Linked DNA regions of Homo sapiens: region 2 is reported to be linked to region 1. The links are microRNA targets in miRTarBase. Many come from high-throughput screens and were not tested one by one. Region 1 holds a microRNA gene; the other region holds the end of a gene's coding sequence.
Evidence for each region. The annotated mature microRNA hsa-miR-2113 reads AUUUGUGCUUGGCUCUGUCAC and lies in region 1 at 1,449-1,469, shown strand. An mRNA with a match to its seed (bases 2 to 7 or 8) in the 3' UTR can be bound and repressed. Matches are read on the target gene's strand: a 7mer-m8 pairs with bases 2 to 8, a 7mer-A1 pairs with bases 2 to 7 and ends in A, and an 8mer does both.

Region 1 (4,702 bases):
TGGATAAATGGTTTATGTGTATAGAATGTAATTCCTAAGAAAAAGTCTATTCTTCTATTTTAAAGTTAAGTAGTCAAACATATCATGTGTGATACTCCATTAAGTAAGTTTCACTCAAATGTTCCTAATACATGTGCTAAGTTCATTTATTTTTAACTAAAAGTTATGATGAGAAGACTCTTTTGAGTGTTGCTGCCACAAATATGTAAATTCAATGTCAGTTGCATGATGGATTTTTTAAAGTGAAGCTCTGCCTCACTTTAGTAAAGGGAAAACGAAATAAAAACAAAAAGGTACAGGTACCATTATTTGTTATAATTCTCCTTCTTTGTAATCTTATCACAGTGATTCTCACGGAGTGGGAGGAGTATCACACCCTAAAGAAAACCTTGGAAACTTGCAGGGATGTATTAGGTTTTTATAAAAATTGCATGGTGTGGAGCCAGGGCCACCACTGACTCCTGGGTGGAGTCAAGGGATGATAGACATTTGCAGCTTGCTTGCGGGAGGCTCTCATTGAAAAACTCTCCTATGCTCACAGAACTTTTGAGTATCCTATCAGACATTCATGTGGTTGAAAAACCTATGTAATATTATCCACACTTTGATTTTATTTTCATTTACATGGAATTAGAAGATTTTTTACATTGTTTAATATGTAATGAACTTTTCAGAAATCAAACTCTCTCATAAATTAATTGGAAATTGTTATTTCGAAGTTTACCAATTGTTGTTCATTGATGGCAACTCTATGGTGTTTGCTGCATCAATACAACAATCTTACTTTAGTTTGCATTAGTGGCTGATGCCTTTGCAAATTTATCATGATTCTGTGCACATGTATCAGCACTTGACTTCATGTCTTCATTATGTGGCAGTGCTAGAATATTTACATTTCAAAATATATACTATTTTATTAATATTACAAAGTTGTTTCTTTTTATTTCTTTTATTTTATAGTTGGGGCATTGTATTGACTTTTTCTATGATATTCTTGAAGTGGTTATAATATCTATGAATTTCATTTTGTTATAGTAAACGGGTTACAAAGTATTTGTTATAAAAAGGAGGAACTGGATCAGATAAAGTTGAGAACAATTGCCTCACGGCATCAAGACATGAATGCATTAGTTGAAAATTCTTCAGTGATAAATCCAGAGATTATTTTAATAGAACAATTATTTCCAATGAGGAAAATAGTATCTCAGGGATTTTTAAATATGCAGTGATAAGCCCTTAGTGCCTACTTTCTTATGTGTATGGATGAAGAGTGTTCAAAACAATTTGTCATATGCACAGAAATACAAAAGATGAAACCTAAAGAGATTATACATTAGTCTCTTAAGAGTAAAACTGACGGAGAGAAGCAGTATACCTTTCACAGAGGCAGATATTTTCAAAGCAATGTGTGACAGGTACAGGGACAAATCCCGTTAATAAGTAAGAGGATTTGTGCTTGGCTCTGTCACATGCCACTTTGAAAACCTACCCTCAAACTGTCTATAAATTTTCATGCCCATCTTTTTCTCCTTACTCTTTCCAGAGCATCTGATTGTTTTTGTTCACCAGTGTTTTTTTTCTCCTGCTTTATCTCATGGCATCCTTTAATAATTTTTAAGAGTTTTGTATATGTACTATGATTTTGTGGCTATGTTATTGTTAACAAAATATTTGCTGCATCCATTCATTTTCACTGGCCATCAACTGCTTCATTATAGGAGATTTGTTTACCTCTTATGACTTCCGAATATGTAAAAAAAAAATCACAGAAATTGAGGAGAGAAGTAACATTTATTATGTTGGTTAGTTTTTCCTTTTAATATGTAGTTAGGTTTTTTTAAGGAAAAAGAATATACACTATCTGGAAAGAAAAAGAGGTTTTTCTTTTTAGTTGTGAATTTTTGAAAACCCAATTATTAAGCCTAGAGGTCTTTAACTTTTATAAAATGGACTCAAAACAAATTTCAATCCTAAAGACTGATGGGCCACCTCTGTTTCTTATTTTGGTGCCTCATCACATGTGAGTTTGCTGATATTAGAAGAGGGACACAAGTATTTGGTAGAACATCTTCTGGTCTCTAAGTTGGTCCTGGTTTGATGCAGCACTCTTTTTCACCCTGCCAAAGATGATTTGCTCCCTGGAAGTAAATATTTATTAACTTGCTGTCAAAGTGAATATGGAAATTTTGCTAGTAGGAATTATATTCTTACTTTAAATTTCTATATTATTTTAAGAGGATGCATTAATGAAAAAACATAGTCCATGAAATGTGTTCTAATGTAGGCAGTTCCAAATAAAAATCATTTCTCTATGGAATTTCTGTTTTTCTCTCTCAAGAACACTAATGGTGCCTACAACCTATTGAATAGGAAGTGTTTTCCAGAGGACTAGCAATATACATCTGACATCATTTTCTTTGCGCATCTAAGTATAGACCTAGGCTGTCCTTCCACAGAATCCAACAGCTGGATAAAAAGTAAAAAACAAAGCAGATCTGCCAGATGGTTTATCTACATTAAATCTAACATCTGTATATTTTTTAAACATTTAGATGATTGGCTTATATTACATCTGCATACTTTTTGGCATTTCTTTGATCATAAATGTGTGTGTGTGTGTGTGTGTGTGTGTGTGTGTGTGTGTGTGTATGTTAAAGAGAAAAGATGCTACTGAGTCAGATAAAACTAACCAGAAAACAGAGCAATGGCCTTTGAATTTCTGTATATTTCTCTGAATGTCCATATCCAAACTCAAGGACCAGATAGCTCAAGTTCAAATTACAGAAATTTTTTGAAAGTTAGAGACAAACTGTGAGAGACAGGATAGTTTCTTATGGTATTCAGCTCCGTAATGTCATTGAATACATAGACTTGACTCTCTGGAAGGAATTCAGAGACCACCTGGCTAGAATCAATTAATTTAGACTTTAGTCATTTTACCTGTGTTAGCAAAGAAAAAAGTCAAAATAATAAATAATATGTTTTTGAAATTCAAGTGTTTTTTTTTGTTTGTTTTTTTGTTTTTGGTTTTTTTTTCCCTTAGAGATGGGTTTAAACAGATGTATGTAGAGTTGAGCCCTCAACATAAAATGTCACTTATCTCTTTGGAACCAAAATCTGAGAATGCCACACAAGCAAGTGCATACTGTAGTGATTGTTCATTTAATGAGTAACAAAAATTTACATTTGTAAGGGCTTTTGAAATTTTAAAGCTCCTTCGTAGTCATGGTCTCATTATCCCCACTTGATACTAAAAACCTTTCTGGAACCCAGATCTTCTCATTCTTTTTTTTGATTTGGGTTTTGGCTTTTGGAATTTTTTGTTTTGTTTTGTTTTTTGGAGACAGTCTTGCTGTTTCGCCCAGGCTGGAGTGCCATGGTGCGATCATGGCTCACTGCGGCCTCAACCTCATGAGCTCAATCAGTCCTTCCACCTCAGACTCTCAAGAGGCTGGGACAACAGGTGTGTGCCACCACACCTGGCTAATTTTTGTATTTTTTGTAGAGGTGGGCTTTCACCCTGTTGCCAGTCTCAAACTCCTGGGCTCAAGCAATCCACCGACTTTGGCCTCCCAAAGTGCTGGGATCATAGGTGTGAGCCACCACGCCCAACCCTCATTCTTTATTTGATGCAATTCCATTATTCCATGAGCAGAGAAGAAAATGAGAAAGAAAGGGACATTTGTAGAGCAAATCCAGTGTTATATGTGTTATATCAGGGGATTTGACATCTATCACTTTATTTAATTCTTACCACTACTTCTGGAATAGAAAATATAGAAACCAAATTTGCTTTACCTCTGACAAATTGGGTTTGAATTCTGCCTCTGCCATACATAGTGGCTAGCTGTGCATCTTTAGTTAAGTGATTTGAATAATTTCCGAGCTTCAGTTTCCTTACATATAAAATGGAAATAATATCAACCCCATATGCTTGTCATAAAATTATATGAGATTATATGCTTAGTATAAGTTAATTTAGCAATACAAAGCACACTGTTGGTGCTCAACACTCAACAAATGTTTGACATTTTACAGATGAAGAAATAGAGGCTTGAAGAGTTAATGGTGGTCATAGAAGTAGGATGTCCCTGAAGGAGCGATGAAAGCTATTCCTATCTTCAAGCCTCATACAACACTTTCTTTATCATTCTAATATTGCTTATTTTTAGAAACAATAATTCACACAATTCGTTTGATTTTATAAAATTAACTTGATACATTGCCCTTTGTGAGTTATATACTAATTTCTCATATCATAATTTTTCTTCCTTAAAACATTGAATTGGTGAGAATACAACAATGGAAATATTGGTGGTATCTTGTAGTTCCAATGAAAATCTGAAAGTACAAAATTAGACCAAACCATATATTTCCATTGCTTTTACTATGTTTCATTAGCAACAATACCAGTTTTGGAAGGTGGTGTGGTCTGGTTGTCACTCTGTTGCTGACTGTCTGTGTGACTGTGGACTATATGATTTAACTGTACTAATATTTACTGTGAATCTACTTTGTGCAGTAGGATCCTGGGATAAACCTAACACAGACCCTATCCTTAAGGAGTTTCCTGTCTCACTGAGAATAACAGACAAGTCATTAAATACACAACATAGTCTGATAAGCTGACATACAGGTAAATTGCACTTTAGGAACATGAAAAAATGTAAAATTCCAACTAGGGGAGTCCTAGAAGCCCTTA
Region 2 (4,000 bases), not on the chromosome of region 1:
GCCTCAATCTTAAGACACATGAATATCTAGACTGTTTCTTCCTTTGGCAGTAACATATCTGGTGTTTGCAGTACACTTTCAATTTATAAAGAATTTTCTGATTTGGTGTCTCATTTAATCAAATGCTCACATTACTGTCACTTGAAGAAGGTGTATAGAAAAGACATCTGCACACCTACCCAAAAGATCTTAGAAATATCACTGAAAATTTTCAGCAGGCATGCAGTTAGGCTGGCAGACCATCCATCCATCCATCCATCCATCCATCCATCCATCCATCCATCCTTTTTTTCCCTGACATAGGGAACTCATCCTCTAACATGAAGGCATACAGGACATTTGACCTCATATACCTTTTTCTTTTTTAAAAATTTGTTTGAGAAGTTCACATTTAATAAATTTCACTATTTTTGGTGGACAGTCTATGAGTTTCTATGAGGCCTGGAGCTCTTGTAACCACTGCCACAAGTAAGTTATAGGACAGTTCCATCACTCCACCCACGTTCAAATACATTTCTGTCTAGCTACCTCTTTCTAGTCAAACACTTGCTCCACTCTTAACTCTTGGCAATCACTACTCTCAACTCTGTTCCTATAGTTTTGCCTTTTCCAGAATGTCATTATCAAGAAAATCATATAGTGTGTGGTTGAGTCTGGCTTCTTTCACTGAACATAATGCATATGAGATTCACTTGCAATATTGCATGTAACAATAGTTTACTCTCATTTATTGCTGAGTACTCATTTATTGTATACATGTACCATAGTTGGTTTACATTTTTAATTCATTCCCCAGTTGAGGGATCTTTGGGTTGTTTCCGGGTTTTGATGATTATGAATAAGGCATCAATAAACATTCACAAACAAGTTTTTTTTTGTACAAACATAGGTTTTCATTATATTTGTATAAATATCTAGAAGTGGAATAACTAGATCATATTGTATGTTTAACTTTAAAAGACACTGTCAAACTGTTTTCCAAAGTGACTGTATTATTTTGCACTCTCACCAGCAATGTGTAAGAGTTCCAATTACTCCACATCCTCACCAGCACTTGGTATCCTCAGTTTTGTGTGTGTGTGTGTGTGTGTGTGTATGTGTGTGTAGTCATGTTAATAGGTATGTAGTAGTATCTCATTGTAGTTTTACTTGTATTTCCCTAATGACTAGTAATGTTGAACATCTCTTGATGTGCTTTTTCGGACATCTGTATATCTTATTTGGTGAAGTGAATGCTCACATTTTTTGTGATTAAAAAAGGGTTTTCTTGTCTGGGCGCGGTGGCTCATGCCTGTAATCCCAGCACTTTGGGAGGCCGAGGCGGGTGGATCACCTGAGGTCAGGAGTTTGAAACCAGCCTGACCAACATGGAGAAACCCTGTCTCTACTAAAAATACAAAATTAGCCGGGCATGGTGGCGCATGCCTGTAATCCCAGCTACCGGGAGGCTGAGGCAGGAGAAGTGCTTGAACCTGGGAGGTGGAAGTTGTGGTGAGCTGAGATCGTGCCATTGCACTCCAGCCTGGTCAACAAGAGTGAACTCTGTCTCAAAAATAAAATAAAATAAAATAAAATAAAATAAAATAAAATAAAATAAAATAAAATAAAATAAGGTTTTCTTACTTCTGCATTTTGAGGGTTCTTTGAATATGCGGGAAACAAGTCCTTGGTCAAACACATGATTTGCAAATATTTTCCCGTCTTTGGCTCACCTTTCATTTCCTTACCCATATCTTTTGTAGAGTAAATATTTTCAGTATTTGTTTATTTTTTAGAGACAGGGTCTTGCTCTATTGCCTGGGCTGGAGTGCAGTGGCATGATCACAGCTCACTGCAGCTTTGAACTTCTGTGTTCAAGTGATACTCCTGCCTCAGCCTCTTGAGTAACTAGGACTACAGGCATGTGCCATCCACACCCAGCTAATATTTTATTTAAAAAACTTTCTGGACAGATGTTACCTTGCTATGTAGCCCAAGCTGGTCTTGAAATCCCAGCCTCAAGTGATGTTCCTGCCTTGGCCTCCCAAAGTGCTGGGATTACAGGCATGAGTCACCATGCCTGGCCAAGGTTTGTTTGTTTTTTGCATATAGATGTCTAGTTCCATCACTTGTTGAAAAGATCATCCAGGTGTGCTCAATGTAATCACAAGGGTCCTTATGAAAAATGCAGGAGGGTCAGAGTCAGAGAAGGAGATGCAATGACAGAACCAGAGATTGGAGTGATGTCCTTGCTGAAAGGGGCCAAAAACCAGGAACCAAGGAATGTGGGCAGCCTCTAGATGCTGGAAAAGGCAAGTAATAGATTCTCCCCTAGAGCCTCCAGAATCAACATGGCTCTACTGATACCTTGATTTTACCATGTAAGACCCATTTTTGGGCTTCTGACTGCCAGAACGGTAAAATAATCAAGTTGTATTGTTTTATAATAACCACTATGTTTATGGTAATATTTTATAGTAGCAATAGGAAACCAATACAAAAAGCTGCATTGAATTGCCTTTGCATTTCTGTCAAAATCAAGTGACTATATTCATATGAAACTATTTCTAGATTATTTATTCTGTTCCATATTTCTATGTGTCCATACTTTTTGCCTACACCACACTGACATATCTTTTTTTTTTTTTTTTTGAGATGGAGTCTCGCTCTGTTGCCTAGGTTGGAGTGCAGTGGGGCGATCCTGGCTCACTGCGACCTCTGCCTCCCAGGTTCAAGTGATTCTCCTGCCTCAGCCTCCCCAGTAGCTGGGACTACTGGTGCGTGCCACTACGCCTGGCTAATTTTTGTATTTTTTGTAGAGGTGGGGTTTTGCCATGTTGACCAGGCTGGTCTCAAACTCCTAACCTCAAGTGATCCACCCAAAGTGCTGGGATTACAGGCATGAGCCACTGCACCTGGCATTTTTTTTTTTTTAGCCTGTCTTGAATTCTCTTATTTTCACTGCTTCATATCTTCAGGATATGAAAAGTTGGTCAGTGGTAGTGAGAAAGATCCCAAAACATAAGGATCAAAAAATGGCATGTTTCAGGGTAGGCATCTGTATTAGTTATCCATTTTTTTTTTCAGAAAGAAAGAAGTAAAATTGTATTTGTTTGTAGATGACATGATCTGCTGTGTAGAAAATCACAGAGTCAACTAAAATACTACTGAAGCTAATAAACACAGTGTATTTGCAGAATACAATATCAGTACCAAAAATTAGTTAAATTTCCATACATTAACAATAAACAATGTTAAAAGAAAATTAAGAAAACACTTCCATTTGCTAGAGAACTTACAGTAAGAAATATTTAGGAATAAACGTAAAAAGGTGAGAAGTTTGTACCTTGAAATCTACAAACATTGATCAAAATGATTAAAAACTTATATAAATAGAGATATGACCCATATTGATGGATTGGAAAGATTAATATTGTTAAATGATTATATAACCCAATGTGATTTAGATTCAACACAATACCCATAAAAATCCCTATCAGAAACAAAAAACAGGCTAGGAAAAGTGGCTCACGTCTTTTGGCCAGGATGGTCTCAAACTCCTGACCTCAAGTGATCTATCCGTCTTGACCTCCCACAGTGCTGGGATTACAGGTATAAGCCACCCTGCCCAGCCCAATCCTCTTAACGTAAACACTTTAATGTCAATTAATGCTTGAACTCAATGTCAAGTCAACTGAAACTCAAGTCAATGCTGAATTGACTCTAATGTCAATTAATGCTTGATGGTTTGCTATACTCATTGCATTTGGAACAATTATCTCAGGAATGAATTTTCTGATGTTTTGCAAGGAGTGACCTCTAACTGAAGACCTTGCCACGCTTATGACATTTGTAAGATTTCTGTCCGGTATGGATTCTCTGATGTCTAATGCGATGTGAATGTGAAGTAAAGGCTTTGCCACAATCATCACACTTGTGATGTTTCTCTCCCATATGAATTCTCCTTTGTTTTGCATAAGATGAAGCTTGACTGAAGGCCTCGTCAAAATCATCACATTTG

Region 2: miRTarBase lists ZNF860 as a target of hsa-miR-2113. The part of its 3' UTR that is shown has no 7-base or 8-base seed match.

What each region holds. Positions count from the first base shown.
Region 1 is chr6:98,023,138-98,027,839 of GRCh38, forward strand. It overlaps MIR2113 (microRNA 2113), which reads left to right and starts at 1,394; the gene lies at 1,394-1,484.
Region 2 is chr3:31,990,777-31,994,776 of GRCh38, reverse strand. ZNF860 (zinc finger protein 860) reads right to left here. Exons shown (of 2, transcript NM_001137674.3): 2 at 3,054-4,000. The coding sequence ends at 3,799. It also overlaps a transcript of OSBPL10 not described here. Among named protein-coding and RNA genes, the nearest start is that of ZNF860, 11 kb to the right of the region's middle.